2 linked regions of the Homo sapiens genome follow. The protein of the gene in region 1 purifies or fractionates together with the protein of each later gene. This does not show direct contact. Each region holds a gene or a part of one and is shown on either strand. Other genes may lie near its edges.

The links. Proteins that work in one complex are often made in the same cells at the same time.
Region 2: the proteins of SLC46A1 (region 1) and PRPS2 purify together in Homo sapiens (affinity purification with mass spectrometry; one large-scale study listed by BioGRID and IntAct). This does not show direct contact.

What each region holds. Positions count from the first base shown.
Region 1 is NC_000017.11:28,403,413-28,407,338, forward strand, and holds the start of SLC46A1 (proton-coupled folate transporter), read right to left. Parts: upstream 2,801-3,926; 5' UTR 2,703-2,800; coding exon 2,475-2,702; intron 2,057-2,474; coding exon 1,204-2,056; intron 638-1,203; exon of another isoform or gene 1-637.
Region 2 is NC_000023.11:12,797,912-12,801,411, reverse strand, and holds part of PRPS2 (ribose-phosphate pyrophosphokinase 2), read right to left. Parts: intron 2,206-3,500; coding exon 2,022-2,205; coding exon of another isoform or gene 2,013-2,021; intron 1-2,012. UniProt on the Homo sapiens protein: Catalyzes the synthesis of phosphoribosylpyrophosphate (PRPP) that is essential for nucleotide synthesis.

The DNA of each region.
Region 1 (3,926 bases):
CCTCAGCAAAACTGCAAACTCCTACAGGACAGTGGATCCTCCAAAGAAGGTATACGATGAGGCATCCAGGGACCCTAGCAGTGTCAGGCCCCTCAAATCCCACTCTGTTGAGACCTCCCCCCGACCCAGAGCAATGACAGCATCTTTATCATCTCTGCATCCCCCAGGGCCATCAGCAGGAGGGAAAGGTTCCCTTCTGCTTAATTGTCAGACAAGCAGTTGAGTTAAGAAATCTGTGATTATTGTATTGTTGACTATACACAGCACATTTTAGGGCTCTATCAAAATAAATCTGTCCCTTTAAAAAAAGTTAACTAAAGCCGGGCACGGTGGCTCATGCCTGTAATCCCAACACTTTGGGAGGCTGAGGCAGGCGGATCCTTGAGCTCAGGAGTTAGAGACCTGGACTGGGCAAAATGGTGAGGACCCCATCTCTATAAAAAATACAAAAATTAGCAAGGTGTGGTAATGTGCACCAGTGGTCCCAGCTACTAGAGAGGCCAAGGTGGGAGGATCATCTGGGCCCGGGGGATGAGGCTGCAGTGAGCCATGATCGTGCCACTGCACTCTAGCCTGGGTAACAAAGCGAGACCCTGTCTCTAAATACATCAATCAAATAAAAATTTTAAAAAGTTAACTTCCTCATTTACTGGCCTGTTGACCCTCTCCCATCAAAAAAAGAAGGGGAGGAAGTGAGGAGGGAAAGGAGAAGGAGAAAGAGGAGAAGAGGAACTGAAGCAGGAATTTCATATCTGTGGTCCGAGAAGACTGGTTTTTAAAAAACCCAAAGAAGCTGACTAAGGGTATTTGAGGTAGGTCCTGTGATTCTTATCAGAGAAGTGAGTACCAGGCATTAATGGCATGGACTTTGTTTAAGAACATATGAATAGGCGGTGGGAGGCCAAGGGGTAAAGCAATTAGTGTATGAGCCACACTTTTGTCTTTTGCTCTATATTACTAACAATATTAATGGTTGATAACAGTGGGTTAATTACTTTAGCTACTGAAGGTCTATATTTTCCATGTATCAAAGATGGCATTTTTGAGGGATTTCTTAGTTGTCTGTTCTCCAGTGCAGGCTGGGGGCATAACTATGTTTCCAAAGACACAGGAATGAACCACATCTGGGGGCAGTGAGTGGCCGGCCCCCAGTTCTTACCCAGTGCCTCTGGGACAAGCTGTCCCTGAGCCCACACACTTTACCTGTGAACATGAGAGGCGTGATAGTGGCAAAGGCAAAGACCACCATCCCCAGGATGTTGAAGGCCAGGCCGATCTCAGCTACCCAGGCATCGGCCAGGCAGTACTGCAGGAGCTTCAGGGCCAGCAGGCTGGTGAGGTAGGGGAGATGCTGAGCTGCAGAACCATAGCCGATTAGTTTGGAGTCCCAGCAGAGGGGTGTGCTTAGTTCATAAAGGGTTAAGATGTCCTGGGCCCCAAAGTGCACAGTGATCACCACGAAGATGGCCAGTGAGTAGAGGGCTAAATGTTTCCTGGACTTCTCTGGGGCGGGAGCCACATAGAGCTGGACAATGGATCGGTGGTGACGGAACGTGAAGAGCCGGGTGGACTTTGGCTCCTTTAAGGTCTCACCAAAGCAGAAAGCTGCATAGAGAGTCATGGCTATCAGCAAGGCCAAGGCCAGCCAGAAGGGGTTGGCATAACCCTGGGCCCGGAGCCAGTGGCCCCCGAGGAGGCTTGCCAGCATCCCAGCCACCCCGATGCTGGCTTCCAGCAGGGCCATCCGGAAGGTGCGGCTGCGACTGGAGCTGACATCTGCCACGGACGCAAAGCTAGCAGCCAGAAGGCCACCGAAGTCGCCGAGGAGGGCACAAAGGATGCGACCCAGCACGAAGTAGCCGACGTGGAGCTGCAGCTGCACCACAAAAACGGACACTAGGGCCTGGAGCAGCAGGCCCAGCGAGGCCAGCACTAGCAGCGGGCGGCGGCCCACACTGTCGCTCCAAGCTCCCAGCAGGGTGGACGAGAAGAGCCCCACCAGGAAGCCGCCCACGTTCATGTAGAGGGTCCAGTGGGAGGTAAGGGTCTCCACTTCCTGTAGGGGCACAATGACCAGGGTGCGGTTCCTCACTCTGGGTTCCACAATCCCCAAATCCTCGCCATCCCGGGAGCTACAGGGATGAGGACTTCCTTTGGAGCCCTAAACCTCAGAGAATCTTAGCACAGCTTTCAAAATCTGCCAGTGGAGAGGGGGAAGGACATGGACCAAGGCCCCATTCCCTTTCCTTTCCCCCCCCTTTTGTTAACCTGCAAGGCCAGACTTTAGCTCAGCTTTTCGCATCCCACCCGCTGAGGTTCTCGGTCAGGCCCCTTTGCTCTGGTCCCGCCCACCATCCAAAATGCACCCTCCCTCCAGTTACCCGCCACTACCATTACGCAGGCCCCGCCCCTCCGCTGCCCCCACGCTCCAGACCAGGGCCCTCCACCTGCCAGGCTCCTCGCCGCCCCGCTACCTGCATGGTGGGGTCCGCGCTGCGGTTGCTGCAGCCCCCCCTTTGGCGGGTGCCATTGTAGCCGAGGTCGGCGCTGAAGCGGTGCCACAGATACTGCGTGGTGAGCGGGCCCTGCAGGACCAAGGCAAAGTTGGCCAGGAAGACCAGCGGCTCTACCGGGCCCCGGCACAGCACGGCAGCCGCAGGGCGGGCGCGGGGCTTTTCCGGGGGGCTCGCGCTCCCCTCCATGTGCGTGCGCGGCGGAGCTGTCGCCAGGCGGGCGGCGGGGCGCGCGAGCGACTCGCTGCCTGGGACCAGCGACGCGTGGCGTGGGGCTTGCGCTGTCTGCGCCTGCGCCCGGCGTCCCTCCTTAAATGTCCGGCGGGGAGGGGCCTGTGACCTGAGGCCACCGGACTCTCGCCGCGGGTGCACCTGGCTGGGCGTGGGCCAGCGAGGGGCCCGGCACCCCCAGCCCGCGGGATGACCTCACCTGTAAAGTGTGCGTAGACACCGCCCTGCAGCCCTCCCTCCCGGCCCAGACACACCACAGATAACAAGAATATCAACAATTAACATGTATTGACCACTTACTATGTGCTGGGCACGGTATTAAACCCTTTTTGTGCGTTGGTCTCCCGATAACTCTACAGGCTAGCCAATATTAACCATCGCTATCTACCGCTGAGGAAACGAGGTCATCGGGTACTCAAGGCAGAGCTGGAAGAGCACATGACTCCTGATGCTGCTGATGTTCTGCGCTGTAACAGAGAGGCAGCTGGAGAGGATCGGAGTGGGCTGAGCCCAGCTGCCTGGGTTGGAGCACCTAGGCTCTGCCACTACCTTCGGCATGCCACTTACCACCCTGAGCCTCTGTTTTTTCATCTGTAAAATGGAGTTGCTAACAAAACATGTCTCAAAAAGTTGTGGAAAAGCAGTGTCTGGTATATTCAAAGTGCTATTATTGCTATTAACAGGCTGTCACGTCTGGGAGTGGTGGCTCACACCTGTAATCCCAGCACTTTTGGAGGCTGAGGCGCATGGATCGCTTGAACCCAGGAGTTCGAGACCAATCTGGGCAACATGGTAAAACCCTGTCTCTACAAAAAATACACAAAAATTAGCCAGGCGTAGTAGCAGATACCTGTAGTCCCAGGTACTCGGGTGGCTGAGGTGGGAGGATCAATTGAGCCCAGGAGGCAGAGGTTGCAGTGGGCTGAGATCGCACCACTGCACTCCAGCCTGGGTGACAGAGCAAGACCCTGTCTCAAAAAATATAAAATAAAAATAAAATAAAAAACAAGCTGTCACTTGCTCCACTCCTGCCCTAGGATCTTTTCCTGGGAAACTAGTCTTGTTTCTGGGGTCAGGCAGGGCCTGGCTCTGCAGTTCCCTTAGAGAAGATGGGGGAGGGCCTGGGAGGTCCTTGGGTGTGAACCTATGCTCCTGGGTGGCTCCCATTATAGGAATTAGGCC
Region 2 (3,500 bases), on another chromosome or scaffold:
GAAATTTAACAGCTAAAAATACAGTTTAAATCAAGTTTAAAATAAAAGGAGCTGTCTGTATAAATAGCTAGTGGGAGGATACAGCTTCACAGCAGTGTATGTGACCTAAGGTTTTGGCTGCCCAAGGTCAAGTTTAGATCATAAACACACACACACATACACACACACACACACACACACACACACACACGTGCGCACGCAATCTATCAATGGTCTAATACAGGGGTTGGCAAACTGTAGCCTATAGGCCAAATCCAGCTAGCCACCAGCCACCAGCCACTTGTTTTGGTACTGCTTGTGAGCTAATAATGGCTTTCACATGTTTAAATGGTTGAAAAAAATTCAAAATAGTATTTCAAGGCATGTGAAAATAATATGAAATTCACATTTCAGTGTCCATAAATAAAGTTTTATTGGAACACAGCCATACCCATTCATTTACATATTGTCTATTGCTCTTTTTGAAGTACAACCAGAGTTGAATAGTTGCAACACAGACCATATAGCCATTTACAGATAAAGTATGTGGACCCTTCTAATTAGATTTTAGGTGAGAAATTAACTGACTGGCCATCTTCAAGACAGGGAATGGAAACCATGTCTTGAGGAGACTGGGATTAAAATTCAGGGGGACTTTGGTATATGAATTCAAATTTATAAAGGGTTTTTTTCAAATATGAGGGGATCTTGTGTGCTGCTTCAGAAATCTGTGTTGTTTCAGAAATGAATTATGGAGATAAAAAGCAGCATATTGGGGAAAACCTTTCTTGCACTGAGTTACCAAATCACAGAACAGCAGTGTGTCTTGAAAACTGGCAGGATTCTCGCTGAGCCTGGCTGAACATCTATCTATCCATAAGATACGGAACACACAACAGCTGGGAGTTGACCACTGTAGTAGGTCAAACAATATCCCCCCAAAACTCATGTCCACCCACAACTTCAGCATGTGACCTCATTTTGGAAATAGGGTCTTTGCAAATATAACCAAGGTAAAGATTAAGTTGAGTTCATTCTGGATTAGGTTAGGCCTGAAATCCAATGACAGTGTCCTTATAAGAAACAGAGAAGAGACACAGGGAAGAGGCCAGGTGAAGAGAGAGGCAGGGACCAGAGTGATGTAGCCACAGCCAAGGAATGCAAGGAGACACCAGAAGTTGGAAGAAGCGAGGAAGCAGCCTCCCTTACAGCCTTCAGAGGGAGCGTGCCCCTGCCCATTCCTTGATTTCACACTTCTGGGCCTCCGAAACTGTGAGGGAAAAATTTCTGCTCTTTTAAGCCACGCGGTTTATGTAATTTCTTATGACAGCTTAGAAAACTAATACAATCTCCTTCAAAGTTCTTCTCAACCTCCGATTTCTCTGTTGCTCTGAAAGGCAAAGACCAACCACATTTTCTTCAATTTTTTTCTAAAGACTCACAGAGCCTCCTCTGATGCTAATGTTGTGAAAAACATAATTCAATGATACTATTTCTGTTCTTTTTAAAAGGTTAAAAAGAGATCATGGGTTTTTTTTTTAATTAAACTTTTTATTTCGGGGGAATTGTAGATAGACATGCAGTTGTATGAAACAACGCAGAGATCCTGTGAACCTTTTACCTAGTTCCCTGTGGTAACGTCTTGTGAAACTATAACACAGTATCACAGCCAGGACCCTGAAATTGATACAATCCAGTGATCTGATTCAGATGTGCTCTAGTTTGACTTGTACTCTTGTGCATGTATGTGTGTGTATTTAGTTCTATCCACCACCACAAAGACATACAATAATTTCATTATAACAAGGACAATAATGGTATTTTAATACCTGCAAAAATATGCATTACCTGTTTCTTTGAATATTAATGTCAGGGTAGGTTCAAAGCCAAATCTTCAACAAACAAAATAAGAAAGCATATTTACTTGATCATCAAAGGAAAAAGCCAACATTTTCCAGATAATTCTAATCAAGGGGATAAATGAGGAAAAACAACATTGACAGTGGCCCACAGCAGGTTTCTAGGGCACACACCTCTCCTACCTTGTCCTTTTTATCTTGTCGGGCGTATGGGAAACACGGGATCACGGCAGTTACTCTGGATGATGACGCAATCTTGCAGGCATTGATCATGATGAGGAGTTCCATCAGGTTGTCGTTAATTTCCCCGCAGCCGCTCTGGATGATGTAGACATCTTCCCCTCTCACGCTTTCACCAATCTCCACGCTAGGAAAAGAAAACTGCCATCGGTTAATATCGAAGCATATTTGCATCTTGGGCGTCCCTGAGACCACCCCTAGGTTTGATGATCACCAGGATGACTTATAGGACTCAGCCTAATAGTTGCACTCATGGCTGTAATTTATTGCAGAGAAAGGACACAGAGCAAACTCAGCAAAGGGAAAAAGGTGCATGGGGTGAAGTTGGGGGAAACAGGGTGCAAGCTTCCAAGACTCCTCCCTGAGGGGAGTCAGAGGTAGAGCTTAATGCCCCAGTAGTGAGCTGTGACAACACGTGTGAAGGGCTCTCTACCAGGGAAGCTGCTTAGAGACTCAAGTCCCAGGGTTTGTATTGTGGGCTGGTCATATAAGCACCCTCTGCCTAGCACGTACCAAAATGTCAGACTCACAGGCATTCAGCATGAACCACATTGTTTATCAATTGTTTAAGAGTTTATGCAGTGAGCCATCCTTACTGGGAAATGGTGGGTACCCTTGCAAAATGTAAGCTCCCAGAGGCCAGCCAAGGGCCAACCTTGCGAACAGGCCTAAGTCTCAGGCCTGCTAATGTTAACTCTTTTCTGCAAAATACTACATTTAGTTTTAGTTTTTTATTAAAGTTATACAGTCATATTGCTTAAAAAATTCAAACCATTCTGTAAGACGTATAACAGAGAAAGTGCCCAGAGGCCACCAATTTCAACTCTTGATAGGGTTTTTGGATACTTTCCTTCAAGTCTAGCTACTATGTGTGTATTGCTGTGTCTTGATTTTTCATTTTAGGCAAAGTGTATTGACTTCTCACTATGGAAGATGAGGACTGAACTCCATTTCCATTCAGTTCCATCACTTGCAATGTAAACTTCCCATCTCGCCATCATCCCAATATAGATCAATATTCACATTAAAGATTGACTGTACGTTTTTAACTGCGCAAATGCTGCTCAGAGCTCTGCCATGCAATTAACTTAAACGAATGCTTGTATTTTCTTTTTATGCACATCTTTTCTTTTTATTTTCCCTGGAGGTCATTCTCTTACCTTTTTATCTGCTAAGTTTTCTGAATCCTGAATCCAGATTCCACCCTAAACCCTTCACTAACAATCAAAATCTCCCAAGATCAGAGGCCTCAAGTCCCATCTGCATTTCATCGTCTTGCAGGCATCCCTCCCAGGGGTGGCAGGCCTGGGTTATCTCTCTGCCTGTGCACAGCTGCCATCCGGGGATTCCCTGCCCCCTCTCCTGCACTCCATTTGCCATTTTCTGTATCCTCTTTCTTGGTATACTTCCTTGTTTTGCTGG